Regions from separate parts of the Homo sapiens genome. Here region 1 is linked to region 2. The links come from fine-mapping of genetic effects on gene expression. Tissue or cell type: fibroblasts. Region 2 holds a variant in brackets; the other region holds the start of a gene. All regions are shown on one strand. Distances are from middle to middle.

Evidence for each region. PIP is the estimated chance that this variant, and not a neighbour inherited with it, causes the effect.
Region 1: AKNA starts here. The variant in region 2 is fine-mapped to the expression of AKNA in fibroblasts (GTEx, PIP above 0.99).

The regions. Positions count from the first base shown.
Region 1 is chr9:114,385,122-114,391,174 of GRCh38, reverse strand. It overlaps AKNA (AT-hook transcription factor), which reads left to right and starts at 3,193. Exons shown (of 22, transcript NM_001317950.2): 1 at 3,193-3,315. It overlaps LOC124902253 (a long non-coding RNA gene), which reads right to left and starts at 3,125. Exons shown (of 3, transcript XR_007061742.1): 1 at 2,922-3,125; 2 at 2,586-2,730; 3 at 1-332. RefSeq lists enhancers at 2,901-3,190, 3,231-3,360, 2,831-3,566, 4,381-4,530, 5,301-5,360 and 2 more.
Region 2 is chr9:114,415,607-114,420,606 of GRCh38, reverse strand. All of the region lies in intron 7 of WHRN (whirlin), which reads left to right. Among named protein-coding and RNA genes, the nearest start is that of AKNA, 30 kb to the right of the region's middle. The variant A/G (reference allele first, on the strand shown) is at 1,968.

The DNA of each region.
Region 1 (6,053 bases), 30 kb after region 2:
GTGACCTTGGGCAAGCTGCTTGGGCTCTAGGGGCCTCTGTTTACCCAACTGTGAAATGGGGTTGTCACATCAGCCTCATTGGGTTGTTATGAGGGCTATGAGTCAGGCTTGGGCAAGTAGCTAGGTTGAGTGGATCATCCAGGATATATTTATTGTATTTCTATTGTATATCAGGGCCTGTGTGCTGGGTCCTGGGGATATGATGATGAGAGCCTCACAGAGCTCCCAACTGAGTGAAGAGACAGATGTTAATCAAATAATCACATATGAAATATAGTTCCAAATGGGGAGTCCCCAAGGAGGGCACGCTGGAGCTGACATCTGGAGGTTGCCTAGAAGTTAACAGGGAAAAGAAGTGGGACTGGGTGAGGGGAGGAGCAGGACACATCTGTCCCAGGAAAAGCAAGGAGGCCTGTATGGCAGGAGCATGCTGAGCAAGGGCAGAGAGGGTGGTGGGAGAAGAGGCTGCAGCAGCGGCCAGCTTGTGGAGTTTCATCTTCTTTCTCAGAGCCATAGTAGCTAGCTGTGCGTCTGAAGCATGGAAGGGTCTTGTTTGGAACTTTTATCTTGGAAGACCACATCGGTGCAGTGTGGGGAACAGATTAGTGGACCCTAGAGCTTTCCAGGCAAGGCCGATCCAGGGACCCACGTGGGGATGCAGAAACGGGGACAGATTCTGGTGAAATTTAGGAAATGAAATCACTGGGAGTTGACGATGGATTGGTTATGGGATGTAAGGGAAAAGGAAGTGTCCAGGGTCACAGTTGATTCTCAGTGTGTACCTGGGTGAAAGATGGGCCAAACTAAGGAGGGGTGGGTTTGGAGGGTGGCAATACTAGGAGCTCAGTCTTAGACATGCTGCTTCGGTTTGGTAGAATTTGGCCTGTGGGTGGGGACAGTGATCCAAGAGGGGGCAGTGCATGAGCAAAGGCAGGGAGGAGGGTTGGTCATGCTTGGGGGTGCAAGGAAATGGAACAGACTGCACTGCAGGCGGTTCTCCTTGGTGTTAGGTGGCTGCCCCTGAGATGGGTTTGGGGTTATCCAGGGGCCACAGGCTATGCCCAGCAATGGCAGCCACCTGGGTTAATGCTGCCTGGGTTAATGACCAGGGAGGGAGGGTGAGTGAGTGACAGGGTGTCAGGGGAGCCCGCCCCTTGCACAATGGCACACATGGCCTCCAGAGCTGATAGGGAGGGGCCTCATTAGGGTTTGGCTCTGCTCCATGTGGGGCTGGGGGCTACAGGGAGAGCCCTGCCACCCAGATGTGGGTAAAAGGCAGGAAAGGGGATAGAGGGGTGGGCGATTACCAGGATGAGGGCTCCTGGTTCTAGCCCTGGCTACGCCAGATATTCACAAGCTGACCTTGGGAACGTCCACTCATTCATTCATTCATTCATTCACAGAACACATTCATCAGCCATAAACAGTGTGCCAGGCTTCAGGAAAGATATTAAGATCTAGCCTTTAGAGGAGACCAGAGACTTATACCTAAGTAGCAGCAATAGTTGTAGTAGCAATAATAAAATAGCTCAATACATGACTGTGTTCTGGCTCCCCCGCTCTACCCTTGGTAGGCATCATGTCATTGAATCTTTATAGCAGCCCCTGTGGGGTGGCTACTCTTCTTATCCCTGTTTTACAGATGAAGAAACTGAGGCTTAGAGACGTGAAGCCTCAAAGGTCAGGGCCAGCAGGAGATGGGGCTGGGATTTGAACCCAGGTCCACAGTGACTCTGAGATTTTTTTCTCTCCTACATGGGTGGTTCCCAAATCTGGCTGCTTATCAGAATTACCTGGAGGGCTTTTTGGACAATACAGAGGCCTGTTTTTTTTCCTCTTTCTTTTTGTTTCCTGACTCAGAGTCTCTGGGTCCTGGGTGGGGCCAGTGTTGGGAGCCTCTTGTGCTCCTGTGCCCGCTTTTCTGTGAAGCTCCTGCTTCTCCCGCTTGACTCGCTCTGCCCCGGGTACACAGGCCTTGCTGTTCTCAGGGAAAGCCCGCTGGCTCCCCCACCTTGGCCTTTCCACTTGCCCTCCCAGAACACTCTGCCCCAAACCTTCTTGTGGCTTGCTTTTGACCCCTCTTCCTTCCAGTGCCTTATTTGAATGTCACCTCCTCATAGAGACCTTCCTGACCGTCCTATAACCCTTCTCCTCCAACCCATTACTCTTGGCCCCATGTGTTCTCTACCAGGGCCAGTCACCTGGGACACTTAAAATGTCTGATGCCCAGAGACTGACTCTGTTGGCCTGGGGTGAGCCCCAGGCTTCAGTGCCACCTGGCCTGGGACACGGATCGTCACCCAGTCTCATTGTTCACAGCTCTCTCCTTGAAATTATACATGTGCTTGCTTATTGTCCATGTCTCTGCTAGAGTGGAGAGCAGGGGACTGGCCTGTCTTCGGCCCTGCCATATTCCCAGGTGATTTAAAAGCACCCGCCACACAGTAGGAGCTCAGTGAGTACCTACGAATGAAGGAATGGGATGGTGGGGCTTGAGGAAAGATAGCTCGACTGACCATCAGGATCGATCTGTTCCCAACATCTGGTGAACCCTTGGAGGGTTCTTACAACAAGGGAAAGTTTACCTGATCCGCCAGGTTCACACCTCCATGCTGCCCCGAACATCCCACTCTGGCTGCAGGACCACCTCGGGGTGAGGACGGTGGGTTGAGATGGCAGGAATCACCACGGTCTCCCTGAGATTCAGGTTGCACATTGGCAGAGTCAGAGCTGGAAGGGCAGGAGTGGTGTTGAGTCTGAGCTCTCACCGTGCACATGGGCCCTGAGGCCTAGTGAGGGAAGGAGCCTCGGCTAAGGTCAGGCCGTGGTTGAAGAGGGCCTAGAGGGTAGGAGCTACAGCATGCTGTGTGACCTTGGCCAAGCCTCTGACCTTCTCTGTGCTTTAGTCTCCCCATCTGTACCTGCAGGGCCTGGGCTGAGATGATCCCAAGCCCAGGACGTCAGGAGTTTGTTCCCTGAGTCCTTTCCTGGGCAGCGCTGACTGCGGAGGGCTTGCAAGGGGTTAAGCTCCTCCAGCTCTTGCTCTGCACGCAGACAAACCCCCTCCTTCTGACAAACACTTGTAGGAAATCAGGCTGGGCGCTTCCTGCCGAGGCGAGGCGGCCTCAACCACGGCAGGGGCGGGGAGAGGTGGGGAGCGATGCTGGTCTGTGAGCAGCAGCTTGGGCTGGCAGAACGGCCTGGAGGTGGGCCAGGGCGCAATGGAGACAGGGGGCTCCCTGGGTTTGGAACAAAGAATTCACAGGCAGGTCCCCTGAAACTGGGTCGGCAGGACGGTGGTGGAGCCCGAGAGAGGTAAGGGATTGGAACGGAGGAGGGCCCGGGAGGCCGCTTTCCTTCTGGACGGGCCAGTCACAGACTCTCCGGGACAGTCCAGGCAGCCGGACCAGCCCAGCCAGGAAGTTGCAGCTGCTGGAGCTGCACCGCTTTTCTCTTGGCTTAGGGGATCCCGGCCTCCAGGGCAAGGGTGGATTTAAGGAGGATTTCGTCAAGCCTCAGGATGCTAGATTCCAGTCCTAGCTCTGATTCTGATCTCTTGTGAACTTGGGTAGGCGGGTCCATCTCTGTGCCTGGGGTGTCGTCGTCTGCACCTGGAGAGTTAGTGTCCTTGGTTGCTAAGGGGTCTCAGAGACGATGCAGGCATGGGCAGCAGGCCAGGAGGCAGCGACGGCGCCGGGGGGTGGTCCCTATTGAAGGAGTGGCCCCTTATGCCAGCTGCGTAAGAGCAAGGAGAGGAGCCAAGGACAGTCCGAGGACCAGCAGACCCAGCTCAGCTCTTGAGGATGGCAAGACCAGAGCTGGCAACAGCCAGGGCACCGTTTCTCTTTCTCCTCGGCCTCTGCTGCTGGAGCGGGCTGGGGGCAGGGAGGACACAGAGAGGGAGTGGCTGGTGCTTCCTTGTGGGACTAGAGTCCACACAGCTGGTGGGAACCCCTTGAGAACAGCAAGTCTGTGCCCTGCCAGCAGGTGGGTGGGGGTATGGTTGAGCCTTTTTGGAAGGTCTGGTTACTGATTTGGGGGGTGGTCTTCCTTCCCCATCTCCCTGACACATCTGACAGCCTTGGTTTCAGAGTTGCGGTACCCCAGCTTTGAATCCTCTGTCTGCGCTTCCTGGCTGTGAGGTCTTGTGAGAGCAGGCCATGTCTCTGTGCCTCAGTGTCTTCATCTGGGAGGTGTCAGGGTGTGGGTGGGGGTAGAAGCAGGGTGGCACCCTGGACAGCTCTGGCTGGATGGGAAGGGGCTGCAGAGGGCACGGGGAGGCTGTGCGGGCTGCGTAGCTGTGCTGGCAAAGGAGAGCCTGGGCGTCTGGGCAGTTCTGAGGGATTGAGCCATAAAGGGAAGGGTCCCTGGCTGTGGAATGACTGAGCGGGCGGAGAAGCCCTGTGTGGGTGGTGGGGAAGAAGAGTCCATCCCACCCAGGAACTGAAGATAGACACCTCAGGGGTCTGTTAGACCCTTGAGAGAGCAGGGGCAGTGGCGGCTTGGGTGTAAGAAGGAGATGTGCAGAAGGAGGGTGCAGTGGCTGCTACTTCCTTGTGGGGCCAGTTTCTCCAGGGATGGCGGGGACCCTGAACTCCATAGCCCTCCCCAGCTCACACTGCTGGAGTCTTCACCAAACCCCACTCACTGCCTTTTAGGAGCAGCCCTGCTGCCCTAACGAGGGCTGGCTGGAACAACTCTGCCTTTATCTGGCATGCAGGGACACCTGCCCATAGCTCTCCTTCAAGGTCAGGCCATACTTTCAGACCTACGTGCCTTTGCCTCCGTGCTGTTCCCGCTGCCTGGAATGCCCTCCCCAGTCTTCTCCCCCAAATCCTCATTGTTTCTCAAGCCCACCTTAAAGCTTCCTTTGGTAACACTTCTGTATTGTACTACCCCCCACCGTTTAAAATCTTGGAACACTTTTACTCTTTTCTATATTCTTTGCATCTTACGTAGCGCCTGGTATATAGTAGGAAGTCATAGGGCTTTTTTAAAAAGTTAATTTGCGCCCACTGGGTGCTCAGTATGTATCTTTGTACTTTGAAATGTGACCTCAGGGAGGAGGAGAGAGGTTAACAGTTCTGAGGCTGTTGCCCTTAGAAGCTGAGTCAATCAGGGACTTCAAAGCTCTTTGAGTCCCATACCCTGCCTCCCAACCCACCCTAGCAGGGTGATATCCCCTTGCGATATCAAGAGCAGGTGGTACTTTCTCTATTTTACAGTGAGGAAAATGCAAGCCCAGCTATACACAGTGAGTAACAGCAGCCAGGACTAGCACCTGTCTCCTGATGCCCAGCCTGCTTCTCTATCACAGCATCGTCCCAGCCTGAGGTTGGCAGGTAGTTGGCACTAACGTGTGTTTGTTGACTGACTAGCTGACTGGCCAGTTCTGGGGCTTTGTGGTGAGGAGGGCCATGGCTCGCATGGAAGGCAGAGGCCTGGCTCAGGAAAGGCTCACTGGTTTAGGCGCCTGGGGGCAAGTGCGAAACTCTAGTCAGTCACTGCAGCTGCCTCTGACGTGCACCTTCCCCTGGTTACAGTGAGATTTCTGCCACGACTGAGTCATCCCAGAAGACAGGATGTTCCTCTTTGTGCACCCAGAGGGCTCTGTGATTGGGCAGGCTGCTCTGTGGCAGAGCTAGAAAAAAAGCCCTTTAAAAAGTCAAAAAACCGCACACCTCCCCCGGCCCCTTCCTCAGCAGAGGCTTCAGAATCAGAAAAGCAACAGCTAAATTGTAGCCTCTTCTCCACCTGCCATAACAGCAGGAGCCAGGAGGCCTAGTGAACTTCAAAGGGCAGGCCCTGCCTGAGGCCCTGGTTTAAAATGCAGATTCCTGGGCCCTATCCCAGGGCCACTGAGTCAGGCTCTCTGCAGGTTGTTTCAGGAAACTGCACGCTTAGAGGATTCTTAAGCACACTGAAGCTTAAGATCCCTGGCAGGGATTTCCAAGAAGGGTACAGGCCCTGCAGAAGGTATGAGAAGCAAGGATTAGAGCTTCTATTTAAAATATAGTTGACCAGCTGGGTGGGTGGCTCATGCTTGTAATCCC
Region 2 (5,000 bases):
GCACAGTCCAGAGCTCCCTTCCACAGATTCAGCTTCTCTGACATCACAGGGCTTGGGCCTCCCTGAAGTCCAGGCCTTCTCCAACCGAGGCTTCCAAACAGGGCCCTCCTTGAAGCTCTGCATTTCATTAGCAGGTGTGACCTCAGACAATTCACTTCCCTTCTCTGAGCTTGTTTCTCTCTCTGGGAATACGGATCCCAGCCTCGCCCCAAAGTAAATGACTGTCTCCTGAAGGCCCTTTAGCAGGGACAAATGTCTTTTCTTTAGAGCAGTGGGGACTCGCCTGTTTCCTTCAAGGAGGCAGGCAGAATGAAGGGATGCTGGTCATGGCAGTGGGGTCTTTCCCTCCCCTCTCTCCATTATTCCTGCCCAAAGCATTCAAGGTAAATAGAAAAGGGGTTTGGAGAACGTGTGGATTTTGCATGTGTGTGTGCGCGTGTGCATTTGGGGAAGGGGTTGTTGCTGCACCCACCCATTCCCTAAATATTTATTTGATGTATCTTTTCTTTTTGCCTTTTGCTCATCCTTCCTCCCCAGGAGCGGCTGCTGTGGCTTATAGACCTGATGGAGGTACCGTCCTTCCTGCCGGTGGGGACTGTGGGAGTCCCTTAACCAGGGGCCGGGGTAGGGGGCTGTGGCCTTTTCTGCCACCCCCGTATGTCTGCACCCAGTCCTGGTGGGGACCAGGGGTTCTTATTGGTGCTGACTGTCTTTCCAGGTCATCAGGTTTCCTGAGCTCTGCAGTGAGAATCCCGTCCATTCAAATCCCAGCTCTGCCACTTTCTTGCTGTGAGACCTCAGGAAGTGGTTTCACCTCTCTGAGCTCAGTTTTAGGATCTGTAAAATGAGGATGGTAATTTCTGTCCCGTGATGTTGAGAGACCCCTTGGCCTTTGCATATGCCATGTGCTTTCTGTCTGGAATGTTCTTCTCCCCACTTCATATGACCTGACTTTCTCCTATGTGTGCTTCAGCCCTCAGCTCAGAAGCTGCCTCTTCCAAGAAGACTTCCCTGATCCTCCCAAGGGGAGTGACTTTCAGGCCACGGCTCCTCTTGCCCCCGGGCTTCCTTTGGTCACAGCTCTTGCCTCATTATGTCCTATTATAAAAGCCTGTACAGGTTTCCCAGTTACCCAATGTGACTGCTGACTGCTTGAGGGCAGCGATCGCACGTGCGGTTACCATTGAGTCCCTATCCCTAGTGCTCAGCACAGACCCTAGCCCATAATTTGGGCCTTTATTAATAACAATAGTGGCTGAGATTTGTTGAATGTTCTCTATGACACTGTGGTAGTGCTTTCCATTCGTATCTTCTTTGACCATCCCAGGAGCTAGGAGTTGTGAGTACTGCTGTGATCCCCATTTTACAAAGAAGAAAACCAAAGCTCAGAGAGGAGAAGCAACTTGCCCAAGGTTGCATGGCTAGTGAGTGATGGAGCCAGGATTCAAACCCAGGCTTGCTTGACTCTGAGCTCTGTTGTTACCCCTGCCATCTGGCTGTGATTCTTCCCTGAAGGATCTCACCAGCTCCCTGTTAAGCATCATTTCGTCATCTATCTGCCTCTCTCCTCCCTTCCTTCTTCTTGTCCTTCCTTTCTGTTAACAAATATTGAGCATTTACTGTGTGCTATGTACATTTTGAGGTTCTGGGGATACAGTGGTGAACACCAAAGAAATCCTTTCCACGATGGAGTTGAACAGACAGCAGGAATGCCAGGCAATAACACAGGATATAGATAACTGAAATACACAGTAAGCTAAATGATGACAAGTGCTAGGGAGAAAAATAAAGCAGGCAAGGGAGACTGGAGAGGGGTGGGGTGGTTAGGGAGTGACCCTTGAGTCAAGACCTGCAGGTGGTGAGGGAGAGAGCCATGCCAACATCTGGGAGAAGAGCATTTCCAACAGAAGCAGCTGCATGTGCAAAGGCCCTGAGGTAAGAGAATGTCAGAGAATTCCAGGCGGCCA[A/G]TAAGGCCAGAGCAGAGGGAGTACGGGGGCAGACATGCTGAGGACTTTGACTCTGAGTGAGATGGGAGTCCTTGGCAGGTAAGAGCAGGGAACTGATGTGGTCTGACTTCGATTTAACAGGGTCCCCCTGATTATTGAGAATAGGTAAGAGTGGGTTTGTACCAAGGTGAACTGGTTAATTCCTAGGAACCAGCCACACCCAGAGGTCTGTGGGCCACGAAGGGCCTGGGAAGGTCATGCAGCCTGAGTTGCTAAAGATGTGATGATGGGTTCTGCAGGCACCAGCTCCTCCTGTGGCTGGGTCAGCCCCTGCCCTGTTGTCTCCTGGGAACCCCTCTTCTCCCCACCCCCACACACAGCAGGTCTCAGATTGGAGGCCCTTTTGCTCACCCTTCCTCAGGAGCGACTGCCTTTTGCTCACCCTTCCTCAGGAGCGACTGCTGTGGTTTATAGACCTGATGGAGGTACCACCCTTCCTGCCGGTGGGGACTGTGGGAGTCCCTTAGCCATGCACACCCATGTTGGCTGCATGTGTGGCCACAGGACAAACCTCCTCCACGTGGAAGCCCTCCTGCAGAGTACGCAGGGCACTGGGACCCATCCTAGGAGTCTGGACCCCCACACCGGTACTCCACTCTGTCTCTCCCAGGCAGTGTGCTCTCAAGAAAGCCCCTCACTCACTCTTGGCCTCAGTCTCCCCATCTGTACAACCACGGAAGACCCCCATGGCTCCTCCAGTTCTGAGAGTCTTCTCTGCATCAGGAGGTGCTGGAAAATATTTGGGGGAGGCACAGCAAGGAATGACAACTCTATATTCCCACCTCTTCTGTGTATATTTGAACAAGGACTGCAGCATTCCTCCAGAGAGAGAAAGAGCTTGAAATAATCACCTTTATTCACCACTAAGTGCCGCTGTGTGGTCTACAACACCACATATTAGTAAGCTTTTGCTGCAGTAATGCTGAGTAATAACCCTAAAATGTGGACAACAACCCAAAACATAACATGGCCAAAATCCCTTCCTGCATGGAGCTCACACACTCCTCATACCTCTGCTAAATCACTTGTCACATTGCTTTAACCTCTTCGTGGGTTTCCCTTCCCCAATAAACAGCGAGAGCTGGTGCAAAATGGAGGCCCAGAAAGTGTGGAACAGAAACTGGAAGGAAAGCACACACTCCCCGGCCACTTGCAGGATTATCTTCTACTATGCGGCCTTCTAAACATTCGCCTCCCACATGGTAGGAAAATGTTCTTTGTTCTAGTGTTCAGTTGGGCAAGATGACATCAGGTGGCTGGCTATCGATGACCGAGATGCCCCAGACACTGGCCCCAAATGGAGCCAGTTTCCATTTAGCCTGAATTCCTCGGATCATGCTGTGTGGTTATTGATCCCAGGTTAAATGTGGCTCATTCTGCAGCCATTTCCCCTCAAAGCAGACACAGTCAATCAAAGGAAATCAGATCCAGCTTTCCCCCATTCACAAACTGTGTTGATTTTCCATTTGTCTAACAGAGAGCCAGCCCTGAGCATTTTATGCTGCCTTCACACAATATCATTTCCCCCATAAAGATGTTGGCCGAGAGAGCAGAGTGAAAGAAGAAAGGCCTGCCTGTTATTTCTTGAATTCTTCATCTAGTGCCAGCATGCCTGTGGCAGAGGGGCTTAATTGCACAGATTCTGGGATCCTACCAGCTGGGTTCTGCTTTCCAGAGTAGTAGCTTTGTCACCTTGGGCAGATGACTTGTGTCTTCTGGGCCTCCATTTCTGCATCTGTACGGTGGGCTGATAAGACCAGCTGTCTGGGTTGTTCTGAAGATTCAGTGAGATCAGGAGTGGATATGCAGGTGTGGAGTGTGGAGGAGCCCATTCTGTTTCTACTCCAAAGGTTGGAAAAGGGCCCTGTATTAATCCGTTCTCACACTACTGTAAGAAACTGCCTGAGACTGGGAAATTTATGAAGAAAAGAGGTTTAATTGACCCACAGTTCTGTAGGCCGTACAGGAAGCATGGCTGGGGAGGCCTCGGGAAACTTAAAATTATGGTGGAAGTTTGAAGGGGAAGCAGGCACATCTTACATGGCTGGAGGAGGAGGAAGAGAAGGGGGAAGTCCTGTACACTTTTAAGCAACCAGATCACATGAGAACTTACTCACTATCACGAGAACAGCAAAAGGGAAATCTGCTCGCATGATCCGATCACCTCCCACCAGATTCCTCCCCCAACACTGGGGATTACAATTCAACATGAGATTTGGGTGAGGATACATAGCCAAAGCATTTCAGGCACTGCAGAGCATTGTAGAGAAAAGGGGATTGGAGAGGTCAAGGCCAGCCTTGTACTCAAGGAGCAAATGCCCTTGAGGTCAGGTGGCAGCAGCTGGGATTTGCCCTGGACTTGACCTCAGGCTTTTTCCACCTGGATTTGAGAGAGTTTGTGCTCCAGCCCTGTCATATGCCTGGAAGGAGGCTCCCAGCCCCTGCCCAAGGATGCTGGGGACAGGATCCCTGCCCCTGAAGGCCTTACTGTCCTTCTTCCCTCCTCTTGTCCCCCAAAAAGAAGGTGAATAGGGGGCAGTAGATGTGGCTGTCAGTGCTTCTCTGCATTGGCCTCCTTCTGTGGCCTCTGTGCCTCCCTCCTTGTCTGCAGCACAGTGAACTGGGAGAAGCTCAGGCTTGTCTCAGGCCCCTCCAGCTGCAGGGACCCCTCACTGTCAAACCAGCTTTTTTTTTTCAGAAACAAGTAGAAAACTGTCAAAGGGCCTTATTTTTCCTCCTGCATCCTGACTTTGGTCCAACCTGGATGGTTTAGAGAATCGTTCTCCATCCATGAGCGGGGTAAGAGAGGAACTCCATGTATTCCTTCAGTCATGCGTTCAGCCACTCCTTCTTCTATGCAGCAGCCTTTGTGGAGCATCTCCTGCCTGCCAGGGGCTGAGCCTGTGCTCTTGAAGCTGATCAAGTCCAGTGGAGGAGGCTACCTCAACTCAAATCATCTCCATAACTCACACTCTGATAAAGCGGGCTGAAGGG